Homo sapiens: one gene and its partners. The protein of the gene in region 2 purifies or fractionates together with the protein of the main gene of each other region. This does not show direct contact. Each region holds a gene or a part of one and is shown on either strand. Other genes may lie near its edges. The genes, in order: RSPRY1, NODAL and TXNDC5.

Region 1 (3,500 bases), on a different chromosome or scaffold from region 2:
TGTTGGAAAGAGCTGGTTAGACAGTGCCATATAATTAAGGGCTTTGATGCAGCAGGAAACTGGGTGCCAGTAAAGGTTTTTGAACAGGAAAATGCTGAAATTAGAAGCATACCATGTAATTCTTGTCTAAAGGGTCTCTAGGATACTTTTCTGCTAGAATATATCCAACCTGCCAGTAGAGGTCCTTATGAGGACTCATACTTACCATTGCAAAAGGAAGACCAGTGAGCCTATGAAAGAAATGAGTCTGGAAATGGAAACGGACATTTTAATAAAGGACAACTCCCACTTACAGAGATTGTCTAAGCTCCACTGGGCACAGAAACCAACTTGACGTTTCAGATAATCAGGATCATTAGCCCAGGACTCCAATGTGACAAGCCGGTCACTAATACTGGATTCAGAAATAGTCAATTTATTTTCACCTGTTTGGAAAGACATAATCCTTGAATTAACAATGAAAGGGTAGAATGATTTGCTCAGCAAATTAGTATTGCTAAGGAGGGGGAAGAGGCAATTAAAGAATTGGAGACTAGATTAGACTTCAATTAAAATTTCTAGGGAAAACATAGCCAAAGAGCTTTGACTATTTTGTTTTCCTTTTTTTTAGTCACAGGGTCTCACTCTGTTGCCTAGGCTGGAGTGCAGTGGCACAACTATGGATCACTGTAACCTTGAACTACTGGGCTCAAGTGATCCCCCCGCCTCAGCATCCCAAGTAGCTAGGAACATAGGTGCATGCCACCATGCCTGGCTGATTTTTTAAAATTTTTTGTAGAGATTGAGTCTTGCTATGCTGCCCACCCTGGTCTCGAATTCCTGGCCTGAAGCAATGCTCTGGCCTTAGCTTCCCAAAGTGCTGGGATTATGGGCAAGAGCCACCATACTTTTTTCTAGAAACTAGCAATCACATCACTAAATTTTTGGCTATAAAAAGTGAGTAAACATGGTTACCAAGTTTTGATTCTTAGGTGAGAAAATCCTTGCCTTTGTCCCTGTTATACTTCATTGGCTTTAACGTGTCTATCCAGATGAAAACAGAATGTATGCCCATCTGATGGGGTTCAAAGTGTAGGCTTATCCAGTAACTAAGAAAAATAAAATTTTTAACAACCAATACAGAAGATCATTAGTGCAAGAAGTCACTATACCTACTTGTCTGTGCAAACTTTTCCAGTGCGATAAGTGCAAAAAGCATGACTGTGGGGTGGGACTGTAACTTCTGAAAAACAACAAAAGATAAAAAAAAAAAAAAAAAATCATTCCCCTGCAGAGGTGGCAAGTTATCAGTTTCATTTCCTTGCCCAATATGTGCTAGATGTTTTTTCGAGTGGTCAGAAAAGTTTCATTCATTCAAGTTCTCAATTATCCATTTGGCTAATAATGTTAGTAATGAACTGGACAGGCTCTCTTAATCTTGTATTTTTTTCTTAAAGTCACTAGGTTAATTTATAGATTTGGAAATTTCAAAAGTATCCTGTTAAATACACTATGTTATTTTACTTAATAAAACTTACATTAGGGCTTTGTTAAATAAAATATTCATTCTCACATTCATTTATGCAAGCCAAACAGAAACCTAGAATTATAAACTAAAAATGATATTTTACTTAGAATCCTAAAAAGAACCACTTATCACTAACAAGTTGCAAAATTATAAATAATTAAATTAACAATTAATGGCTCAGTTTTTAAGCTGTTCCCTGAAAGGAATTCTACAAATGCTGATGGTAGACAGGAGAAAGCAACAAGTGAACTCTTTTAGTTACATTTAAGCTCATGTCACATGAGTTCCCCTTTAAGGAAAGGTCTATCTGTTGAACATGACACCTTCTCATAGCTGTGCTTTCCCTACTGCTACATTGGGAGCCACCAGAGGAGCTCCAGAACATCAGATGATTCCCACTGACTTCCCTGGTACCTCCTAAGTTCTGGAAACCTCACATAACCACCATCCCTGCTGCTGGAAAGCCTATTCAGCATTCTATTTCTTCTCATATCCATCTAAATCCCTCTGCCTGGCTTTTCAGGCCCTAAACCCTTTCTAGCTGGCTACTCAGTCTGTGTCCTATCTCTGAACACTGTCTTCTCTCATCAGACAATTCTCTGTCTCTGGACTTCTGCCTGTGATGTTCCCTTAGCTAAGAAACCAATTTTTTCCCTCCTCTGGGCACAATAAAATCCTCATCTATAGCATGACCCAGCTGAGGGTCCACCTTCATCAGGAAGTCTGACTTTCATGACACCCCGGCTCTCATTACCCATACCACCCACCTTCTCATTTAGTCTTTTTTTTTTTTTGAGATGGAGTCTCGCTCTGTCGCCCAGGCTGGAGGGCAGTGGTGAGATCTCAGCTAACTGTAATCTCTGCCTTCTGGGTTCAAGTGAATTCCTGCCTCAGCCTCCTGAGTAGCTGGGACTACACACACATGCCACCATGCCCAGCTAATTTTTGTATTTTTAGTAGGGACCAGGTTTCGCCATGTTGGCCAGGCTGGTCTTGAACTCCTGACCTCAGGTGACCAGCCCACCTCAGCCTCCCAAAATGCCGGGCTTATAGGCATGAGCCACCGTGCCCGGCCCTCATTTAGTCTTGATGAAGTACTTTCTCCCATGATCACATCCTGTGATAAAATGGAGGCTAATTACCTTGTCTGAGTAGTTTTGTTTCCTCAACTAACCAATAAACCTCTTGAAATCATAGGACTGCCATGTTGTATCCCCAGAGTGCTCATTGAGAGTAAGGTAAGTGTTTTAAGCACGTATCAGTGGGTATTGACAAATAAGGGTTTTCAGACCAGAGTTTTGAAAAGGGCCAATGCTCACTAGGCCTACAAAAATAACTTTTAAAAATACAGACCATTCAAGACCACAGGCCAGAACTATGAGAGATCTGAGGGCACAGCCTCAGCAAACCAGAAGCTTCATAGACAATATATTAAATATTCCAGTGACAACAGTTTTAAGAGTAGCAGTGAGGGGGAGGGCAGGGAGGAGTAGAGATTTATATATACTGGGAATCTGACTTGATGGCCTCCTGGCTTGGAACGCCATGTAATTGTTTCTACTGTGGAGGTCCCTATTACCATTTGGCAAACTCAAGGAACATGCAAAAGAGCCAATCATAGCAGCTATCTTATGACTAAATTTAAAACCAGACTAACTCAGCTGTTTTTGCTGGTTGGGATAAATTCCAATCCCACTCTCTTTTTTAAACATAGGAGGGAATAAATAAGCACTCGGGAAACACCTGCAAATAAAATTTACAATTGATTCCATTCTCTGTGCCAGTGGCTATGCCAGCAATTTGAGAAAATGCACAGTTCTAGATGATGCCCACTTCTAGATGACTAAGAATAAATAGTTTTGATGTCTCACTTACCAGACACTGTAGCAAGTATTCCAGTATTCCTGGGCTAAGTAAACCTATACTTGCAGGACCTAGACAAATACAACAAACACTTGATATAATTAAAATGCCAGATTATTTTAAATCACTG
Region 2 (3,733 bases):
TGGGGCTCCTGGATCATCTACCCCAAGCAGTACAACGCCTATCGCTGTGAGGGCGAGTGTCCTAATCCTGTTGGGGAGGAGTTTCATCCGACCAACCATGCATACATCCAGGTGGGATGCCAGGCGTGAGGGGGAGGGGAGGCAGTAAGCTGGCCTTGGGGGACAGGGCTCTAGCTTTGCTATTAAATGACTATGTTCCTGTATTCACAGTTACTCAAGCACCTCCAATGTACCAGGATCCTGTGCTAGGTACCAGGCATGTAGAGATGACCGAGTGTAACATCCTTATAGAGCCTGTATGGGGTCATGCGTCACTGGGTAGCCTTGAACACATTGTTTCCCTGGGACTTTATCCTTGTCTTTCATAAAATTAGGGGGTGGGGGTAGACCAGAGGGTCTCAGCACTTCCCTAGCCCTGACATTCTAGGAAAGGAAGAATCTGGACTTTGGGGACAGGCAGGCCTGCATTTGACTCCTCATTAGCTGTGTGATACTGTTTAGGTTGCTTATTCTCTCAAGCTTCAGTTTTTCCACCTGTAAGATGAGGAGGGCAATGCCATATTTCAGAGGGATGCTGTAGGGTTAATGAGATGACATGCACATGGCATGTAAAGCAGTTGGTAGGTAACAGGCATGTTTGGCTGCATTATGGGGCCACGGTTGGAATCACACTGTTCCAGCCACAGTATTTTGGTTGAGAATTGACTACCCATTCTACAGAAGTAGACAAGGCCAGCCAGGTGCGGTGGCACATGCCTGAAATCCCAACACTTTGGGAGGCTGAGGTGGGCGGATCACCTGAGGTCAGGAGTTTGAGACCAGCCTGACCAACATGGTGACACCCCGTCTCTACTAAAAATACAAAAATCAGCCGGGTGTTGTGGCACATGCCTGTAATCCCAGCTACTCGGGAGGCTGAGGCAGGAGAATCACTTGAACCCGGGAGGCAGAGATTGCAGTGAGCCGAGATCATGCCATTGCACTCCAGCCTGGGCAACAGGAGCGAAACTCCATCTCAAAAACAAGAAAAAGTAGACAAAGCCAGAGGCTGCCACTTGGTGCCACTAGTCAGCCTAAGGTCTAGGAGGTGGTGGAGGAAGAACAGAGCTGGTGAGTTAGGAAAGAGAAGAAGATGGAGAGAACAGAAAATATAACCTAATATGGTGGATCTGATGTTATAGGTGGCCCTGCCCTGCTGTCCAAGGTCATATGGGACCAAAATGTTTTCATTTTACTCCATGAAGTCTGGAATGAGAATTTCTTGGACTTGCAATATATCCTCCATGCCAAGCCTCAGGCGGGATTCAGGGTCTCTGGGGAGCATGAGCACATGGGCTGAGGTCATGCAAGGGAGTCCCTGGGGGTACTAGAGCTTCCGAGGATCTGTCCTGAGCCTCACCCAGGCCTGCTGATTTTCATCGCCCACCTGGAGCACCACAAAGACCCAGACAGTCCCAACTGCCAACTCTGACACTCTGATCTAAAAAGACGTTACTAGACCACAGGGACAGGCCCTGGTTCCAAAACGCCAAGGGATTGTTCCTTTCCTCCTATTGACTCTCTCTGTCCTTCTCTGGCTGACAGCAAATCCCATAAGAATTTCCACATGACTAACTATTCTGCTTCATATTTCTAGAACTAAACCAGGAATTTCTTGGAATATTTTAAAAATTGGTATTCACAGCCGGGCACGGTGGCTCACTCATGTAATTCCAGCATTTTGGGAGGCTGAGGTGGGTGGATCGCTTGAGCCCAGGAGGTCAAGACCAGCCTGGGCAACATGCCGAAACCCTATTTCTACAAAAAATACAAAAATTAGCCAGGCATGGTGGCATGTACCTGTAGTCCCAGCTACTCAGGAGGCTGAGGTGGGAGGATCACCTGAGCCCAGGAGGTTGAGGATGCAGTGAGCTGTGATCACACCACTGCACTCCAGCCTGGGCAACAGAGCAAGACCATCTCAAAAAAGAAAAAAAAAATGGTATTCCCTTTAGACTAGAATAATAGGAGAACATAAAAATTAGCTACCACTTAAAAAAAAAAATAGCTACTACTCTACCCAGATACATGTAATTTTTTGAATCTGTTTAAAGGCTGTTTTCACAAAACAAGCACAGAGCTAAAGGTAGTTTAGACATTAGAGTTCATGATATATTGGCAAGCTAATTCCTTTATGAAAATAATTTTCTGCTATTTTTGCACTCAGGAACTGACTTTAACTCCGTAACTTTTTTACTCTTTACCCAGAAATACTATTCTGACCTGCCCATCAGGATGTGAATTGACACACCCTTCCTTTCCTTTACAGAGTCTGCTGAAACGTTACCAGCCCCACCGAGTCCCTTCCACTTGTTGTGCCCCAGTGAAGACCAAGCCGCTGAGCATGCTGTATGTGGATAATGGCAGAGTGCTCCTAGATCACCATAAAGACATGATCGTGGAAGAATGTGGGTGCCTCTGATGACATCCTGGAGGGAGACTGGATTTGCCTGCACTCTGGAAGGCTGGGAAACTCCTGGAAGACATGATAACCATCTAATCCAGTAAGGAGAAACAGAGAGGGGCAAAGTTGCTCTGCCCACCAGAACTGAAGAGGAGGGGCTGCCCACTCTGTAAATGAAGGGCTCAGTGGAGTCTGGCCAAGCACAGAGGCTGCTGTCAGGAAGAGGGAGGAAGAAGCCTGTGCAGGGGGCTGGCTGGATGTTCTCTTTACTGAAAAGACAGTGGCAAGGAAAAGCACAAGTGCATGAGTTCTTTACTGGATTTTTTAAAAACCTGTGAACCCCCCGAAACTGTATGTGAAAGTTGAGACATATGTGCATGTATTTTGGAGGTGGGATGAAGTCACCTATAGCTTTCATGTATTCTCCAAAGTAGTCTGTGTGTGACCTGTCCCCCTCCCCAAAGATTAAGGATCACTGTATAGATTAAAAAGAGTCCGTCAATCTCATTGCCTCAGGCTGGGTTGGGGGAGCCCCACAGCTTTCTGGCTGGCCAGTGGCAATCTACTGGCCTTGTCCAGAGGCTCACTGGAGTGGTTCTCTGCTAATGAGCTGTACAACAATAAAGCCATTGTCTAGTTCTCCTGGGCCAGCTGGTGCCTGTGAAGGCAGAGGCAGGAACTCATCCAAGAGGACCGGCCATGTTGGGTTACAGAAGACATCCCTGCGTCAGTCTGCTTCGGCAGACACAGCCTGAGTTTGTTAAAGTTGGTGACAATCCACCTCAGTCTCTCAATGTGTGCTATTAATGAGGCCTCTGAGCTTCCTATCCAGCAGTGGTGAAGGCCTTGCCCTGGGTGGCAAGATACTTGCTCTATGGTCACAGCTCAGCCACTGGAAGCTGTGCGACCTCAGGTGAGCAATTCACTGTCCAGTCTCCACTTGTAAAAGGAACGCTGGTGAATCCTAATGCATTCATATTAAATGTCTGTTGTCAGGCTCAGAAGAGCCATGAGCTTTAAGCTGTAGACTGAATAGGAAGAGCTACCTTATCCCTACCTCCCTCTAAAGCTTATAAAGCTTGCTAAACCCAGTCCCTGCCACATGCCCTTAATCTAACCTTTATCGGCTCTTTTGTTACTCAGGGTTCTAAGACAGACTTAATTTCAGGTTCCACATGGGAAGCACAGCAAAAGGAGCCTGAGTGAGGCAGCTCTATCCCCAAAAACCCCTGACCACAGTTATCTTCCAGGTAAAAAGACCTCAAAGGCAGCAATTCTGGCTGGGTGCAG
Region 3 (3,119 bases), on a different chromosome or scaffold from region 2:
CAACTCGTTTCTAAGAATTTTAGGGCACAAAAAACAACTGGTATCTTTTAATGATAAGGAAACTATGTCTGGGTTACGTCTATTCTCCATCTAAAGGGCTCCAAAAGTGTCTGAATAACAAAGAAGAAAAAAAATGACAAATCTTCCAGGCCATCAGACTGTGCTAACAGCTTGGAATGAAGGCAGTAGTTAACCCAAGCACAGGACCGACTTGCTGGCATGGCCCTTTCAGAAAGGAGGTTATGTTGAAATGATTCTTAGATTCAGCCACTGCATTTTATAATGCTGGCTTATGTGTGAAAAATGAGCGACTCGGGTATTTATGGCAAAGGCTACAGACCACTGGTCAATCATCAAGAGTCGCGGTGTGGGAAGCCCCACAGTCTATGGCGTGGGGTCTGTTACTTCACGGCCTTGTTACTCAGACAGCAAGGCCTGAAAACCTGCACTGAAACATGGATACTAACTACAAAGCGGGCGAAGAAGAATGCCTTCCCTTTGAGAGAGGATCTCTTTTGCTTCTCCAAACAAACAACTCAAAGGGACATAAAAACCACATTGTTGAGAAGATGAGAGCAGAGTGAGTTATCGTGGTTGAGGCACAGTTCCCTTGGGATCTGCCCCCATACTGAGAGCTCCCATAAGCATCCATCCAAGTACCCACCGAATACTTGCTGCAGATATTCCGTTCAGCAGTGCAGTCTACTTCGGCGATCTTGACCCCCGCCAGACCAGGGAATTCCTTTTTAGAGAGTTCCTCCCAAGTAGGAGCCAGAGTCTTACAATGACCACACCTAAGACGAGAAAAATGGCAGCTTCGTTGAAATCCTGGGTCGAGATCATTCACCTACACTCTGCTGCCAAGACAAGCTCTGTTTCTTCTGTATGGGACAGTCAACAATTGCCTAGAAATTTGTAAAATACCAAATTCTCCCACTGGGTGCACATTAACTCTTCCTCCTCCTATCCCAAATGAAGAACCCAAAAGTTGATCCAAGGTAGACTTTCAGATAATGTGACAGAAGCAAGCCAGTCTCAAAACAAGTTGAGATTCTGAGACCATTTCCATGCCATGGTGAACTGTGCTAACTGGTTTATGAAAGCACAGGAGCAGAGGAACAGGGAACAGGGCAGATGCCACACAATTTCTAAAAGGTCACTTGAATGCCAAAGACATTTTAGATTTGATTGCTTATGGTCTCACAATTTCAAAACCATTTTAAGGCCTCCTTGGTACTTCAGCGATGTGGGGTGAGCATCAAGGCCATGATTAAGTTTGGTTCAAACCCTCCCTTCTACCCGACTCTGTTCCCTTGTCTCTTCTGACCCCCTCCTGCCGTATGGATGGCTCCCCTTCAGCCAAAGGGGATCCTCCTTTTTGATACTTGATCTGTGGAGCTTTAGGTTTTTAAATGTTGCAAATGATTTGAAAGGCATTGCTATGGTTCGTTCAAGTCCTGTGCTTATTAACTTTTTACCCCTATGGTTAGTTTCTCAGGAACATGTGGAGTGTAACAAACAAGAAAAGTGACGCCTTTATCATGTTTAGATAAACAATCTACTGTTGTCCTAACACTCTGCTTTTCCAAATGGATTGTTTTATTTGTGAAGACAAAAAGTTACTCCCATTTTTCAGCTGAGGGAACTGGGGTTCAAAGGAATTAAAGGACATCCAAGTTTACTATACAGTCATTCACGGTAAGTCTTAGAACCAAGGTTGTCTGGATCTCACACTACCTGCAATCCATTTCTGCTCTGGTCTCCAAGACCACGTGGCATGCAGGTTCAGGAAACTGCGTAGCATACTGAATGGCTCTAACAGACTCTACTGGATTTCTCTACAAAAGAAATCCGAGTACTTAAAAGAACCGAGGAGCAAAGCTACATCATGACACTCATTGTTTAGCCAAAAAGAAAAGCCATCTATTTGGAAAAGTGCAGATACCACAAAACTGAATATGGCCATCATAATTTGCCTCCATTTTTATGTTTTCTCCAAAGTTGATATAACTTTAGCCTCATTCTCCATATATAATCAAAGTTGATATAACTGTAGCCTCATTCTCCATATATAATTAAGGCCATTGAAGTTTAAAATATTTGAATATAGGAGCATGATAACGGTTCCTTATTTCCTACAACATGACCTACATATAAATGTAACATGTGCCCAACATTGAGTCTGGAGGGGTGGCAGATGAGCTGAAAAACATGATGTGACTTAGTACACATGGACAAAGTAGTTTCTAATTAAACAGCCACTTACCATGGAGCATAAAACTTGATGAAGGTTATTCCTTCTGCAATGGTGTCATCGAAGTTATTTTCAGTGAGTGCCAACACAGTGCCCTTCAAGGGAGGAAAAAGCCACAGTTCAAGTACATCCCTTAAAGTTGAGCAGGGCCATGCTTTGGGATTGCAGATACACGAATCAGTAATTTTTTAAAAATGCAGTTACGTAGGCTCCAAGGTCACACAGAAATACCTACACAATCTGCATTTCATAGGCTACACACAAAGGGAGGCTGGCAGCCTCTGAAGGGCAGAGAGATCAATGCAAGTCCCTGGGTCCCAAGCCTGGGAGATGTGGTGAGGAGGTGGCTGGACACTGTACAGGGGATGAAGGTGGGGAGGGGGACTGTCTTTTGGGGATGAGGCAGGTTGAAAACTCTCCAGGGCGCTGTGGTGTGGACCAGGCAGCCCTGGGTGTCTGACACTTGAGTCTGCACCTCTAAGCCTGGAGTCTCCAGGATACCCACTGAAGTCTCATCCTCAGCCGCTTTTCTCACTGGCCACCCTATTCTCCTAGCACCCTTTGTGACATCCTCTCTATGCAACAGAAAGAACCTAGTTACAATAGCAAAGGCAATGATACCTGTTTTACATTGAACATAAAAATGGAAAGCAGCCTGTTCTAAGTCAATGTGAAAAACGCTGATGGAAGCTCTGGCTGGAGAATTTAAGGGAAAGGTGCTACATGGTAGTCTGCTTTAAAGCCATTCTCCCTTGACAGTTCTTTACAGAATGACGTCTATGTGTTTCTCCAAAAATGGATCTGCGATTCTCTCCTGAGAGCAGGAATGGGATGATTTATCACGTGGCTAAGTGTACCAGGGCTG

The links.
Region 1: the proteins of NODAL (region 2) and RSPRY1 purify together in Homo sapiens (affinity purification with mass spectrometry; one large-scale study listed by BioGRID and IntAct). This does not show direct contact.
Region 3: the proteins of NODAL (region 2) and TXNDC5 purify together in Homo sapiens (affinity purification with mass spectrometry; one large-scale study listed by BioGRID and IntAct). This does not show direct contact.

The regions. Positions count from the first base shown.
Region 1 is NC_000016.10:57,213,829-57,217,328, reverse strand, and holds part of RSPRY1 (RING finger and SPRY domain-containing protein 1 isoform 1 precursor), read right to left. Parts: intron 3,442-3,500; coding exon 3,383-3,441; intron 1,223-3,382; coding exon 1,156-1,222; intron 426-1,155; coding exon 294-425; intron 1-293.
Region 2 is NC_000010.11:70,431,664-70,435,396, reverse strand, and holds the end of NODAL (nodal homolog isoform 1 preproprotein), read left to right. Parts: coding exon 1-111; intron 112-2,308; coding exon 2,309-2,461; 3' UTR 2,462-3,461; downstream 3,462-3,733. UniProt on the Homo sapiens protein: Essential for mesoderm formation and axial patterning during embryonic development.
Region 3 is NC_000006.12:7,883,695-7,886,813, forward strand, and holds part of TXNDC5 (thioredoxin domain-containing protein 5 isoform 1 precursor), read right to left. Parts: intron 2,350-3,119; coding exon 2,267-2,349; intron 795-2,266; coding exon 665-794; intron 1-664. UniProt on the Homo sapiens protein: Protein disulfide isomerase of the endoplasmic reticulum lumen involved in the formation of disulfide bonds in proteins. Can reduce insulin disulfide bonds.